Homo sapiens: one gene and its partner. The protein of the gene in region 1 interacts with the protein of each later gene in a pairwise test. Each region holds a gene or a part of one and is shown in the gene's direction. Other genes may lie near its edges.

What was found. Proteins that work in one complex are often made in the same cells at the same time.
Region 2: the proteins of GLO1 (region 1) and PUS10 interact in binary tests that used the Homo sapiens proteins (3 or more experiments, as listed by UniProt).

What each region holds. Positions count from the first base shown.
Region 1 is NC_000006.12:38,699,274-38,708,495, reverse strand, and holds the start of GLO1 (lactoylglutathione lyase), read left to right. Parts: upstream 1-5,350; 5' UTR 5,351-5,441; coding exon 5,442-5,525; intron 5,526-9,222. UniProt on the Homo sapiens protein: Catalyzes the conversion of hemimercaptal, formed from methylglyoxal and glutathione, to S-lactoylglutathione. Involved in the regulation of TNF-induced transcriptional activity of NF-kappa-B. Required for normal osteoclastogenesis.
Region 2 is NC_000002.12:60,939,723-60,946,085, reverse strand, and holds the end of PUS10 (tRNA pseudouridine synthase Pus10), read left to right. Parts: intron 1-977; coding exon 978-1,077; intron 1,078-3,652; coding exon 3,653-3,691; 3' UTR 3,692-5,863; downstream 5,864-6,363. UniProt on the Homo sapiens protein: Protein with different functions depending on its subcellular location: involved in miRNA processing in the nucleus and acts as a tRNA pseudouridylate synthase in the cytoplasm.

The sequences.
Region 1 (9,222 bases):
AATAGTAGCTCTGGTTCATTCATTTTTACTTATGTATAGTAGTCCACTCAATGAAAATAACACAATCTATCTATTTTCCTACGGTTGGACATTAAGGCTTTATCCTTTTTTCTTCTTTTATTTTTTTTGCCATTCAAACCATGTCTGTTATATATGTCTCATGGAGTGCAGACACAATAACCCTCTAGGATATATACTTAGCAGTGGATCCCAGGATGTACTCTCTTCAACTTCATTAGATACTGCCAAATTACTTTCCAAAGTGTGTCCACCAGCAAGTGTTTATGCATTTCAGCTGTTCTACATCCACACCAACACTTGATATTGACAGGTTTTTAATTTTTTAATTTCTGTCAATCTCAAGAGCATAAAAGAAAACTCATTTCTATATTAAATTGCATTTACCTATTTACCAGAAAATTGGAGCAATTTTTTTTTCTTTTACTTTTTTTGAGACAGAGTCTCACTCTGTCACCCAGGCTGGAGTGCAGTGGCGTGATCTCAGCTCACTGCAACCTCTGCCTCCCGGGTTCAAGTGATTCTCCTGCCTCAGCCTCCTAAGTAGTTGGGATTACAGGCACATGCCACCACACCTGGTTAATTTTTGTATTTTTAGTACAGACGGGGTTTCACCATGTTGGTCAGGCTGGTCTCAAACTCCCGACCTCGTGATCCTCCTGCCTCAGCCTCCCAAACTGCTGGGATTACAGGCGTGAGCCCCCACTCCCGGACTCTCTCTCTTTCTTTCTTTCTTTCTTTCTTTCTTTCTTTCTTTCTTTCTTTCTTTCTTTCCTTCTTTCTTTCTTTCTTCCTTTCTTTCTTTCTCTCTCTCTTTCTTCCTTCCTTCCTTCCCTCCCTCCCTCCTTCCTTCCTTCCTCTTTCTTTCTTTCCTCCCTTCCTTTCCTTTCTTTCCTCCCTTCCTTTCCTTTCTTTCCTCCCTTCCTTTCCTTTCTTTCCTTTTTTTGAGACAGGGTCTCATTCTGTCGCCCAAGTAACGTGATCTCACCTCACTGCAACCTCCACCTCCCAGGTTCAAGTGATTCTCCTACCTTAGCCTCCTAAGTAGCTGGGATTACAGGCATGTGCCACCACACCTGGCTAATTTTTGTACTTTTAGTAGAGGTGGGGTTTCACTACGTAGGGCAGACTTGGAGCAATTTTTCATATGAATATATGCTATTTCTATTCTCTCTTTTGTAAATTGCCTATTCTTCTTTTTGGCCATTTTTTTCTATCGAGTTATGTGTCTCTTTCTCATTGATTTCTAACAGTTTTTACATATTCTGGATACTGAACCTTTGTTGGCTATGTGTGTTGCCCATACTTTCTCCTGGTCTATGGTTTAACTTTTTACCTTTTAGGGTGTGTTTTAGCTTTCTTTTATACTTCGTGCTTTTATATCTCATTAAGAAACTTCTTTCTTTCTTTCTTTCTTTTTTTTTGGAGATGGAGTCTTGCTCTGTCACCCAGGCTGGAGTGCAGTGGCACGATCTCGGCTCACTGCAACCCCTGCCTCCCAGGTTCAAACAATTCTCCTGCCTCAGCCTCCCGAGTAGCTGGGACTACAAGCACACGCCACCACGCCTGGCTAATTTTTTGAATTTTAGCAGAGACGAGGTTTCACTGTGTTGCCCAGGCTGGTCTCAAACTCCTGAACTCAGGCAATCCACCTGTCTCAGCCTTCCAAAGTGCTAGTGAGCCACCGCGCCCAGCCTTCATTAAGAAATTTCTACCATGAATTCACAAAGGCATTTTCTAATATTTTATTCTTCAAGGTTTTAAGTTTTGCCTTTTCACATTTATGTCTATAATCCTCTTGGACTTACGTTTTCCTTTATGGTATGAAATAGAGATCTTTTTTTATCACATACATAATCAATTGTCCTTACCCCATTCATTGAAAAAATAATCTTTTCCCCACTAGCAGTAAGATAACACATACCAAATTTATATATATATACACACACACAGAGACACAAACATGGTATGTGTGTATATTGGTTGCCTATTAATGCACAACAACTTATTCCAAAACTTAGCAGCTGAAAACAATAAACATTTATTATCTCACAGTTTCTGTGGTTTAAGAATCTGGGAATGGTCCAGCTAGGTAGTTCTGGATCAGGGTCTCTCACAAGACAGTGACTAAGAGGTTGGCCAAAGCAGCAGTCATTTTGAAGCTCTACTGAAAAAGGACCCACTTGCAATTTTACTGTGTAGCTGATGGCAGGTGTCTGGCCTTCACTGGCTGTTGACCAGAGACATTGGTTCCTTGCCACATGCATCTCTCCTTAGAGTTGCTCACAACGTGACAACTTGCTTACCCTCCAAGTGAGAGATCAAAGAAAGTGACAGAGCTCCCAAGATAAGAATCACAACATTTCATTCTCTAATCTCAGAAATGACATGAAGTGACACTTTATCATGTCTATCATGCTCTTTGTATCAGAAGTGAGCCACCAAATCCAGCCCATACTCAAGGTTAGGGAAGCAGACAAGACTGTGAAGACCCGGAGGTGGGGATCATTGGGGTTATCTTAGAGTGGTCTACTACAGTTTCCATTTGTTGATCTATGCCAGCCTCCCTACCATACTGTCTTTTTTTTTTTTTTCATCCTGTCTTAATTACTGTAGCTTGTACAAAGTCTTGTTATCCGGTAGAGAATGTTCCCCTACTTAATTATTATTCAGTATATCTTTCCTATTTGGGGCCCTAAAAATAGAATGTAGAATCTGCTTGTTCATTTTAATTGAAAACCCCTGGGCCAGGCACAGTGGTTCATACCTGTAATCACACTTTGGGGAGGCCAAAGTGCGAGGATCACTTGAGCTCAGGAGTTCAAGACCAGCCTGGGCAACATAGTGAGATGCTGTCTCTACAAAAACTAAAATAAAATAAATTATCTGGTTTTGGTGGTGCATGCCTATAGTCTTAGCTATTTGTGAGGCTGAGGTGGGTGGGTGGGTGGATTGCTGGAGCCTGAGAGGTTGAGGCTGCAGTGAGCTGAGACAGCACCACTGCACTCCACACTGGGCAACAGAGTGAGACCCTATCTTGAAAGAAAGAAAGAAGAAAGAAAAGAAAGAAAGAAGAAAGAAAGAAAGAAATAAAGAAAGAAACAAATAAAGAAAGAAGAAAGAAAGAAAGAAAGAAAGAAAGAAAGAAAGAAAGAAAGAAAGAAAGAAAGAAAGAAAGGACTCTGTTGGGATTTTTATTGGAATTTCATTACATGAACAGATTAATTAGTAAATGAATTGATATTTTATGATATTGAGTCTTCCTATTCATTTACATGCTTTATATCTCACATAGTCTGAGAAGCTCACCAGAAAGATTAGTGCAAAAGGGCTGGGAACAGTGGCTCATGCCTGTAATCCCAGCACTTTGGGAGGCCGAGGTGGGCGGATCACCTGAGGTCAGGAGTTTGAGACCAGCCTGGCCAACATGGTGAAACCGTGTCTCTACTAAAAATACAAAAATTAGCCAGCATGGTGGCAGGTGCCTGTAATCCCAGCTACTTGGGAGGCTCAGGCAGGAGAATCGCTTGAACCCAGGAGGTGGAGGTTGCAGTGAGCCAAGATCACACCACTGCATTCCAGCCTGGGCGACAGAGGAAGACTCCATCTAAAAAAGAAAATTAATGCAAAAGAAGACAATTTGGGGGTCTTTTCAATAATTCAGTGGTAACACACAGTATATGGAGAGTTTGTGTATTGCTCCAATTCCCGAGTTTAAAAGGTTTAAGGTCTAGTTCCATATAGAAGTCCTGCAGTTCTAATAGACTGTGTTTTGATGAAATATCCTCAGTAAGTTAGTATGAGGTATGCACAACATTTCTGCTGAAATCCTTATCCTGCCTATCATTTTGCAGTGGACATCCATGGTTCAGTTTGCCTGGCAATCCTCCCTTCTCATAAGAACATCATCGCTCTTCTTTTAGGGAACTAACAGATCCTCCCCAAACTCCAATCAGGTGGTCCTAATCCAGGTTGCCAATCGCAGTGCTTCAATCACAGGAGTAAGCACAGGTCCTAGGCCAGGCCAATCACAGCTCCTTCTTGGATTTTCCAATTTGATAAAATCCAGGCTGGCTGGATAAAATCCAGAGGGAGAGTTTACTCCCACTCCTAGTGAGAGAACAGCTGCCAAATTTCTAGTCTTATGGAGCTGGTGTCTGACAAACTGAAGCTGCGATGCAGAAAAAAGCTGAGATGAGAGACGGGGACATCTTGGTGGTGGCCAGGTGGCTAGTGCCATATACATCCCTGCCCAACCTCATTTTGGTTAGGTGAGCACCAGTCATTCCCATTTATTCTTTTAACAACAGGAAGTATTTAATGAGCATCTACTATTATGAGCCAATCATTGAAGACACAGTGATGACTAAGCCTTCCAGTGAACACAAAATATATATTAATGTAAAAAGTACTGCAAGTTATGGACATTTGGAACCTAAGTAGGCAAACCATGACTTAAATCTCATTTAGGCTGGGCACAGTGGCTACACCTGTAATCCCAGCACTTTGGGAGGCTGAGGCGGGAGGGTCACTTCAGCCCAGGAGTTGAGACCAGCCTGGGCAACATGGTGAAACCCCCATCTCAAAAAAATACAAAAATTAACTGGTCTTGGTTTTGCAGCCTGTAGTCTCAGCTAATCGGGAGGCTGAGGCCAGAGGACAGCTAGAGCCCCGGAAGTCGAGGCAGCAGTGACTGCAGTAAGCTGAGAGCACACCACTGCACTCCAGCCTGGGCGACAGAGCGAGACACTGTTAAAAAAATTAAAAAAAAAAAAAAAAGAAAGAAAGAAAGAAAAGAAAAAAGAAAAAGGAAAAGAAAACTTATTTAATTCTCAACAAATCCTGTTAGGAAGCTCAGAGAGGGTCAGTAATTATTGCAAGTTTCTAGCGCTAATATATAGCGGAACCAAGACTTGAACATAGGTTTTCGACTCAACAATTGTTTTAATTACTCTGCGCTGCGTAAACTGAGAAACCTCTGAATCCTTACAATTTTAAAAGAACAACTTACAGTTTTCAGTTTCCATCAGATTCCAATTTTCTACCAAATTGCAGCCCTGAGGTATGAATGGTTACCAAACTTTAGTTAAACAAACAAAATTAGCTCATTAAGTAACAGAGAAACCACTCTGCCCAGCCTGCATTTTTTTTTTTTTTTTTGTATGAGTTTGCCTCCTTTATGCGCAAGGCTCCTTGGGAGTTGTAGTCTGAGGCATAGTCCTGTGGGTGGAGGCGCTGACTCACTGGGACCCAATCAGCAGAGAGTCAACTTGCTCTCCGCGCAGCGATTGGCTGGAAGTCAGCGGTCTCCCGCCCGCGGCGCCATCGCGCCATTCCTAGTTAAGGCGGCACAGGGCCGAGGCGTAGTGTGGGTGACTCCTCCGTTCCTTGGGTCCCGTCGTCTGTGATACTGCAGCGCAGCCATGGCAGAACCGCAGCCCCCGTCCGGCGGCCTCACGGACGAGGCCGCCCTCAGTTGCTGCTCCGACGCGGACCCCAGTACCAAGGTGGGCACAGGACCGAAGGGAACGGCTCCCCCAGCTCCGCTGGGCCGGGACCGGGCCGCATTCTATCCAACCCCATCCCGCCGCCGCTGCAGGTCCGCCGGCCTCGGGCGGACGGGAGTGTGATGGGAAGAGGGATAATGGTGTTTGATGGGGCGATCGTGGGGCCCGCGAAGTGTGGAGGGGATCTGTTGCCTCAGCTAGTTTCAAAGACTGCGACCCTGTTTTGAATTGGCTTGTTTATGTTGCGACGGTGGCTGGAAGCCAGGCCAACCCAGGGTCAGCTTTCCCAAATCAGTCGCCAAGGCCCACGAGAACAGTAGTTTCAGAACTCCCAGAAATAGGTTCAAAGATGCCTGTCCTGTACCAGTCCTGCCCAGCCTCGTTTTTCCTTACCACCCTGACTGCAGTCTTAACTCCTGCAAACTAATTTGATCGCTCTAAGTTTAACCGCGCCCAGAATTTCACTTTTGCTTGCTTGGCCTTTGCTGTGGGTCACAACAGCCCTTCTTGCCTTCCTCATCTTCGTGGGGCCCAGGAGAGATTACAGAATCATAGAGTTTGGATCTGAAAGGAATCTTAGAAATTCCTTCTCTTACCCTCTCGTTTTACAGTAATGACCCAGTAAGAGAAATGACCTGTTGCATACAAAGGCTTTCACTTACCGAACATGTCTTTACTGGGTAAGAATCAGTGTAACTCACTCAGGTGTGGTGTTTCGGTTGCCTTGTTAAGATCAGACACAGTTGGCGGGCGCGGTGGCTCACGCCTGTAATCCCAGCACTTTGGGAGGCCAAGGCGGGCGGATCACGAGGTCAAGAGGTAGAGACCATCCTAACACGGTGAAACCCCGTCTCTACTAAAAATACAAAAAAATGAGCTGGGCGTGGTGGCGGGTGCCTGTAGTCCCAGCTACTCGGGAGGCTGAGGCAGGAGAATGGCATGAACCCGGGAGGCGGAGCTTGCAGTGAGCTGAGATCGTGCCACTGCACTCCAGCCTGGGCGACAGAGTGAGACTCTGTCTAAAAAAAAAAAAAAAAAAAAATTCAGGCACAGTAACCGCTGTTTATTCCAGTGAAGTCATCAGTGTCTGTAAACACCTTTGTATTTATTTATTTGACTACATCATTTGTAAATTCCTTGAAGATTGAATATGTGCTTCGTGCAGACCTTTAAAAGGGGTAGATAAGTGGTCCATGACTCTGGTCCCTGCTTGTTCTTTACCTTCAGGGCAAAGAGTCAGACACATCTCATTGCTAAAACTTTTGACTAGCACCTGGTACTTGGCTTAGGAAAAATGTTAGTCATTGCAAAATTAAGGGGGAAGGTAAAAAAATTCCGTCATGCCCATCTCACTTGTATATCCCTTAATATTAATACCTGGTTTTTTCATATAATGTAAATTGAGTCACTCAGTGTAAAGTATTTTCCCAGATAACTAGGGGTTTTATGTAATGGGGTTTTCAAATAAAAAGGATTCCAGGGATATCTTTATAAAATATACTAAGTAAATGTCCTTGCAGCTTAATTTACATTCCACAGTATCTAAATTTCTCTTGATGATTCGGAGTAATTAATTTTGAGATCAGTAATTTTTGGCCATGGGAGACATAAAATGGAATACATAATAATAGCTGGTATATATTGAGTGTGCCAGGCCCTGGCTTGGTATTTTAAGTACATTGTTTAATTTAATCCTAACAACAACCCTATGAAGAAGGCATAATTATGATCTTCATTTTACAAATAAGGACACTCAGGCACATAGAGGTGTTGAGTGATTTGCCCAGGGAGGACCCCACACTTCCAACCTCCACCCTGTTCTGCTTCTGGGGTGCTGACTCCAGCAGTAATTTTGGAATTTGCCATAAAGGAAAATAAAAAACCTCAATGAAGGCTGGGTGCAGTGGCTCATGCCTGTAATCCCAGCACTTTGGGAGAGCGAGGTGGGCAGATCACCTGAGGTTAGCAGTTCGAGACCAGCCTGGCCAACATGGCAAAACTCTGCTCTACTAAAAATACAAAAATTAGCTGGGCATGGTGGCGGGCACCTGTAATCCCAGCTACTTGGGAGGCTGAGGCAGGAAAATCACTTGAACCCATGAGGTGGAGGTTGCAGGGAGCCGAGATCATGCCACTGCATTCCAGCTTGGGTGACAGAGTGAGACTTTGTCCAAAAAAAAAAAAAAACCCTCAATGAATTAAATTCAGTTTGATCACTTGATACATTTATGCTATATGTAAAGAAGATGGTAAGTACTTTGGGGATACTGGGATAAACAAGATGAGGTTCCCTCCCTTCACCAACTTATATCAACTCTAATATACAATGGACCTGGGGTTAGTGTGCTATTGAAATATAAATCACCCTGAGAGCACCCTGGGAGGTAGAGGTTTTTAAAGGTAGCATTAGTGGAATGGGGTATGCACAGGGTATTTGGAGCCTGAAGACCTGCATTTGAATCCCCACTTCTGTTGTTGGCTGCAGTGACCTTGCCAGGGCACTTGGGCTCAGTTTGTAGAAGGAGCATAAAGATATCTCAGAGAGCTGCTATGAGGATAAAATGACATGTATTATGTTCTCTAAACTATGAAGAGTGATACAATTCAAGGTTGTATTTCAGCTGTGGGGATCAGGGCACACATCAAAAAGATGGTGGTGATGGGCCTATGCCTTGATAGATTGGGTAGGATTCCAGCAGAGTACATGGGAAGGCATTCTGATGAAGGAAACATCTTAGCAAAAATGTGTTTTGATACGGGGGGAACCCACCCCAATATTTCAACGTAGGTTCTTTCTATTTTCCATAAGTATTGGCCAGCTGAGAAATAAAGAGTACAAAGAGAGGAATTTTACAGCTGGGCTGCCGGGGGGTGACATCACATATCAGTAGGACTGTGATGCCCACCTGAGTCTTAGACCAGCAAGTTTTTATTAAGGGTTTCAAAAGGGGAGGGGGTGTAAGAACAGGGAGTAGGTACAAAGATCACATGCTTCAAAGGGCAAAAAGCAGAACTACTAATAAGGGTCTAACAAAGATCACAAGGCAAAGGGCAAAAGCAGAACTACTGATAAGGGTCCAACAAAGATCACAAGGCAAAGGGCAAAAGCAGAACTACTGATAAGGGTCTATGTTCAGCAGTGCACGTATTGTCTTGATAAACATCTTAAACAACAGAAAACAGGGTTCGAGAGCAGAGAAGCGGTCTGACCACAAATTTACTAGGGTGAAGTTTTTTCCCCACCCTAGTAAGCCTGAGGGTACTGCAGGAGACGAGGGCGTATCTCAGTCCTTATCTCAACCTCATAAGACAGACATTCCCAGAGCGGGCGTTTATAGACCTCCCCCCAGGAATGCGTTCCTTTCCCAGGGTATTAATATTAATATTCCTTGCTAGGAAAATAATTTAGCAATATCTCTCCTACTTGCACGTCCGTTTATAGGCTCTCTGCAAGAAGAAAAATATGGCTCTTTTTGTCCGACCCCTCAGGCAGTCAGACCTTATGGTTGTCTTCCCTTGTTCCCTAAAATCGCTGTTTTTCTGTTGTTTTTCAAGGTGCGCCGATTTCATATTGTTCAAACACAGTTTTACAATCAATTTGTACAGTTAACACAATTATCTCAGTGGTCCTGAGGTGATGTACATCCTCAGCTTACGAAGATAACAGGATTAAGAGATTAAAGACAGGCATAAGAAA
Region 2 (6,363 bases), on another chromosome or scaffold:
AAACACAGTTACTAGATAATTATATGTCTTATGCTTTAGTCAAAACATTTGGCAAAGGTAGAGTGAGTAAAACGTTCAGAAAGTGAGGACATAATATCAGCATATTATAATATAGATTTTTCATCATCTGGAAACAAATTTATTTCTCTATTCAAGTTCCATTAATTATTTTCTACTAAATGCTGGTTTGTAGAACAAAACATAATGCTGCATTTTTACCAAATTCTGGCAAAAACAAATCTTTTAGATAAATATTGTCAAAGCTGCAGTACAGTCCTATGTAAGGAATGTTAATCTTAAAAACAAATTCTAGAATTAGTTATTGATTTCAAAATTTGAAATACAATTTTGAGAGAAATACAAAGTTGCCCCTTTAAGAAAGAGAGAGAGAATTAACTTAGTTCTTTTGCTAACCATGTTAGCAAACTAGACGGTAGGTCTTTGGTAATCCTTCCGAAGAGCCATCATTAAGACTAAACTAATAGTCTCATTATTCCTTCCACCCTATTGCCTCTGGGTCATGTTACAAGGAATGCCATCATTGAGATCACTCTCTGTGTGGCTCTGTGGAAACCTACCATCTGGCAGGTGACAGTTGCCATTATTAAAAAAATGGGACTAACAAGATAATAACATAGAAATTGTGGCAAAGTTGTTTTTTAATAAAAGCATTGAGCTATGGTTAATTTTTAAAATCCACATCCAAACCTTGGCACTTGGAGATGAGCTATAAAGAAAAAAGAAAGTAATGATTTTTGGTAAGTTTGATGTAAACACATTTCCCAGGCTCTGATGTTGGCTGCCAGGCTACTAGGGACCACATTGCCAAAGCTTATTTTTTAAGACACACAAGTCAGAGCTCAGAAGTAACCTTTCTTTTGTAACATTTCTGCTCTTATTATTATTTTTGCCTGTCAAATCTTACCAAATAGTTGGTACAGCATGCTGTCTTCATTTTTTCCTTAAACAAACCCCAGCTACATTAAAGAGTTTGTACATGGAGACTTCGGGAGAACCAAGCCAAACATTGGGTCCCTGATGAATGTGACTGCAGACATTCTGGAGCTGGATGTTGAGGTAAACCATTTTGTTGTGGAATGCACATTGGCAAATTGAATTCAACCAAAGTTATGCTCTTTGGCATTAAGCCATTTTAGTATCACCCACCTCCATAGGTATTTGAGAATGGTGAAAATCTCACAGTAACATTGTATTGAAGGGAGGGACTGTCTTCGGATTTTTTTTTTTAATATGAGGTCTCATTTATGTTCCTTGAAAATATATAGCTAATTTATTAACTGTGCTTTACATGTAGTATCAAATCTAAACCCTTAAACCAAGCACGGAAATAGTCATTTCCATACCTGTTGCGTTTTATAAAGACTTTAAAGCAGCATATTCAGAAACATGGATTCACAAGGGTAGAAAGTGAGGTGAGCCAATGGTTCTTCATAAAAGCAGTTCTATAAGGACCCCTGTGATGTGGTCCAAGTTCTCTGCTCTTACAGTCTGAATTGAAACAAGGTTAAATTCTAAAGTAATTGTAAGAATGGTTCTGTCGGGCAAGTCTCCATAAATATTTCATTTGAGTATCAATAGGTGTTGAGTCACGAGTGGTGTTTCTTCATGAAAATCTGACTAGGAATAGAGTACCTCCCCCGCTCCTCTCCCCAGAATCTTAGGACTTGGGGATTTGTACTTGGGAATAATATCAAAGTTATAGAAAGAAGTGGGCATAGTTGCCCAATGTGAAAACATCTATGGTAATCAAATGATCACTGGAGTATTACTTCCTTACCAGCAATTCTCTCAAGTGCTCTGGGATTAGATTAGCTCCTGCAGTACAGCCAGTGATCGTGCCCTCAAGGTTGCAGGGAGCCTCTTCAGTGAAACTATCATTTGGAGGAAGAAAACCTTCTGTTAAAGAAAATCTCTACTCATCATCTTTTTTTTTTTTTGAGACAGGGTCTTGCACTGTCACCCAGGCTGGAGTGCAGTGGTGCGATCACGGGTCACTGCAACCCTGACCTCTCGGGCTCAAGCGATCCCCTGCCTCAGTCTCCCGAGTAGCTGGGACCACAGGCATGAGCCACTATGCCTGGCGTTTTTTTGTTGTTGTTGTTGTTGAGATGGGGTCTCACCGTGTTGCCCAGGCTTGCATTAATCTTTTTTTACTTTAATTCTCAGAACAGTTAGGAGTGTCAAAGACTCACAGGCCAGTGTTTCTCAACACTGACTGCCCACTGGAATCACTTGTGGAGCTTTTTAAGCACTACAACTTGCCTCCCCTCCACACACACACACACACACACACACACACACAAGATTGTGATCAGTCATGTTTTATTTTCAGCTTGAGAAAACACTCATTAATTTACATTTGGGTGTTTGGTATATGGCTATATTCTGAAACAGAACAAAAATATCTTCTTGAGATTTGTAAAAGACACACACACACATAGCTATTTAGGCTTTTCTAATAAATTTTTTTTGAAGCCAGTACGTGAAGTGACTCATGGATTAATGAAAAAATTTTCAGTAAATAATTTTATGTTTTAAACTTTAAATGTCAATAAAAGCCACAGATAGATACGGTGGGTTTTTTTTTTTTTTTAACTTTCTCTTAAAGTAGATCCCCTAGCCTTTGATAGACCTGGTATGTGTTTATGTGGAGACAAATAGTCTGTTTACTGTAATTTCATTCTGACTCAAAGATCAAGGTTTTGTCCTAGAAGAACAAAATAAAGGTAAGTAGAGATAGATGAACTGGATTTTAAAGAAACAGAAATTCTACAGAACTGAAGCACAAAGATCCTTAATCCTTTTCTGGTTCCAGGTCATCTTTCATAATCATTTATTTCACATTTTGTTGCTGTGTTACAACAAGACTATAGGCTTATAGACTACTTGAATATTTGTTAAATGCAAGATGAGAGAATAAAAATGATCAGAAGAATAAAAGTTTCTGAGACTTCTGAGGGAAAATTGGTGGTCACTTGAATTTGTTTGCTACTTTTACCCATAAATACTTTTTTTTTTTTTTTTTTTTCTGAGATAGATAGGGTCTCATTCTGTCACCCAGGCTGGAGTGCTGTGGCGTGATTTCGGCTCACTGCAACCTCTGCCTCCTGGGCTCAAGCTGTTCTCCTGCCTCAGCTTCCTGAGTAGCTAGGACTACAGGCGTGTGCCACCATGCTTGGCTAAATTTTGCATTTTTAGTGGAGACGGGGTTTTGCCATGTTGGCCAGGCTGGTCTTGAACTCTTGACTTTGAGTGGTCTGCCCACCTTGATCATGTTGATCTATATAATTGATCGGCCTCCCAAAGTGCTGGGATTAAAGGTGTGAGCCACCACACCTGGCCCCATAAATACCATTTAAAAAATTTAAATGTATTCTCTTATCAGTCAAAAAGCACAGTTAATAACCAACTGAGTAGCCAAATACTGCTACTCAATTAATTCAGAAGACCTCAGGCCCAAGAATACCTAGAACAGACTTGAGGGTTAATTTATGGTATTCAATAGCTCTTTTCTTCAAATGCAGTTTCTTCTGTTGCACTATATTAAAACTATTAAATTTATACAGCATTACCAGCAAATGCTTACCACAACAGTAATATCTGTTTTAATGACTTCTTTTCTCCCTTCTAGTCTGTAGATGTTGACTGGCCACCTGCTCTGGATGACTAGCTTTCAAATTTGGAGACAAAGAGTATGGTTTTCCTGGCATGATGTGGACATCCATGGAGCACATGCCGTAAAATGGCTGTTTACCCACCATAACGGTGTCTTGAAAACTATTTGGATCATGTTGATCTATATAATTGTTAATTTGTTGTAACATCTCAGGATCTATATATGTGTATATTTTGTGTTAAATTGTTCCAAGGATGTCTTAGGATTTTTCTCATTCCCTCTTTCACCCCCACAAACCAAACTATGAATAATGAAATAATTCTCCTTAATTCTTTCATTTAGAGAGGTGCACAAACAGGACACATTCTCTGTTAACCTAAGAAGCTGTAATTTCAGCAAGATTTCCCTCCACAAGAGATATACCACCTTTAAAATCATGTTCTAATTTTTGTAAATTATCTGAATAAAAGTTATATCTAGATTTATGCAGCATAATATCCTATAATAGTCTAAGATTGCAAATGCAAATCTGACATCATTATTTTCCCCAGGAAGCCTCAAACAAGCTATTACCAATGAAGTTCTTTTGGCTGTGATTTGTCATAAATCTTAACCAAACTATGAATAATGAAATAATTCTCATTAATACTTTCATTAAGAAAGAATTTTGACAATCTAAAATTGTCAATATAGGTTTCCTGTGGAGGGAAAGTAAAACCGTAGGAGCCAAGGCATGCCATGGTAGGAGCCTTTCATAAATCTTTTAAATAAGGAGAAACAAGTGCCTTTAATAACTTCAATCCCAGGGTTAAGAATTTGAAAAATTGAGATTGCTAAACAAAGACGAACTGGTATTATTTCAGAATGCTTCAATATATTATCCAATTATAAACATTTTAATAATACCTTATTAAAGTAGATAGGATATTGTCTCCATTTTATAAATATGGAAACCAAAGACTAGAAGTTAAATGACTTATCCAAAATTGTTAGCTACTTCTATATTGAGGACTAGAACTGAAGTTTCTTGGTTTCTAGGGTCTTTCTAATAAGCCCTATTACTGAGCACCTGTTTGTGTGAAGGGGCAGCTATGGATGCCATTTAAACTCATGTAACTGATAATTAACTTTTGGAATGTAGTTACCAAATCAAAGAGCTTACCAAAAAATAGCCCAAGACTATTTAATACAATCTTATATAGTTACCATTTGTTATTAAGTTAAACCTCAGTTGGTATTATGAAGAGGAAAAACATTAAGCTAAACCTAAAAAAAATGAATGGGTCATTTAAGTTTCAGAAAGGAGCCTCATTACAATTTCAGATTTGAGTATAATTTCCATCACCCTAATTCAACTATTTGAGCTTTTTTTAAGAATACATGTGACTTGACTAGTATTAGATTACTAACCATTTCCCATCTCTATATTAAACATAAATCACAGATACCAAGATTCACTTTAGATATGAGGAAAATGGTTTTAATGGACACAAAGGAGTCAGCCACGTTGGAACCAACATAGTTTCATACCACGTTGAAACCATGTGTTTGATATGCAAATAACAGCAAATAATTTTTTCACTCTTGTCAATGCCAATGCATTGAAAGGCCCAGAAAATGAGAAAAGGATAACAAACTTTTGATAAAAAGGTAAGAATTTCTGTGTGGATGTTCCTCAGTTTCTGGGAAAATTTTGCTACAAAAGAGATTTAAATAATTTAGGAGGCAGTCTTTTGCATGGTATTTTTGGCTTACCTTTGAATCTAGTGGACCTGTAATATGTAAGAATGAAGAATGTGCTTAGCAAACTGAAATGAGAAGATTTCTATTTCTTAAATTTCTATTCCTGAGATTATATAAAATTTCACGCAAAGAGTAAGCATTAGCTTTAAATACTTCTTCCAAATGTTCCTAGAATTTTGAGACAAAGATTGTTAAAAATTAATGTATGTCTTTGTTTTAGGCAGAACTGGAAATATTAAGTAGTGAGAGTACTATAGTTTCCCTTTTGCCTACATAAAAGCATTTTAAAATTAGTTTTATGATTTCTTTGTAAGCTTTATTTAAATTCAAAGTCTTTTTCATAACACTTAAGAGAAAGAGCCCTTTGTACTTCTTAGTATCTCTTATATAGTCCCAAATATAGTCTGTGGTTTATTTTAGGAAAAACATCAACTCTGAATACCTGGAAAAGTCAAAAGAAAATAAAGTTGGTAAAATGAAAAATGTCCAAGTAAGAAAACCGGTTACATTTGCAAGTTATGTGAAGTAAATTTAGAAGTTAAATTTCCATTTTGTAAGAGAAAAACATCTTACTTGGCAAATCTTTTCTTTTGGAGCTAATTATTCTTTGATTTTTAAGTCCACATAAGAGAATGAACTTTGATATCAGCTTTTCTGATTTTTTAACAAAGGCTACCCTTGTTTATTATGAAAAATATTACTTTTATGATTCTATTTTGAATTTTTAAATTTTGAAATAATTCCAAACTTACAGGAAAAGTTAAAGTACAAAGAACCTTTTTCCCTGAACCATGGAGCCAGTGCTGTCTCATGATCTTAAAGGCTTCAGTGTGTAATTTCTACAAACAAGGACATTCTTTTACTTAACCACAACACAGTGATCAAAACCAGGAAATTAACACTGGTATATTACCATCTAACCCACAGACCCCGTTCAAGTTGCCAGTTGTCCCATCAGTGTCCTTCATAGTCAAGTGCTCACA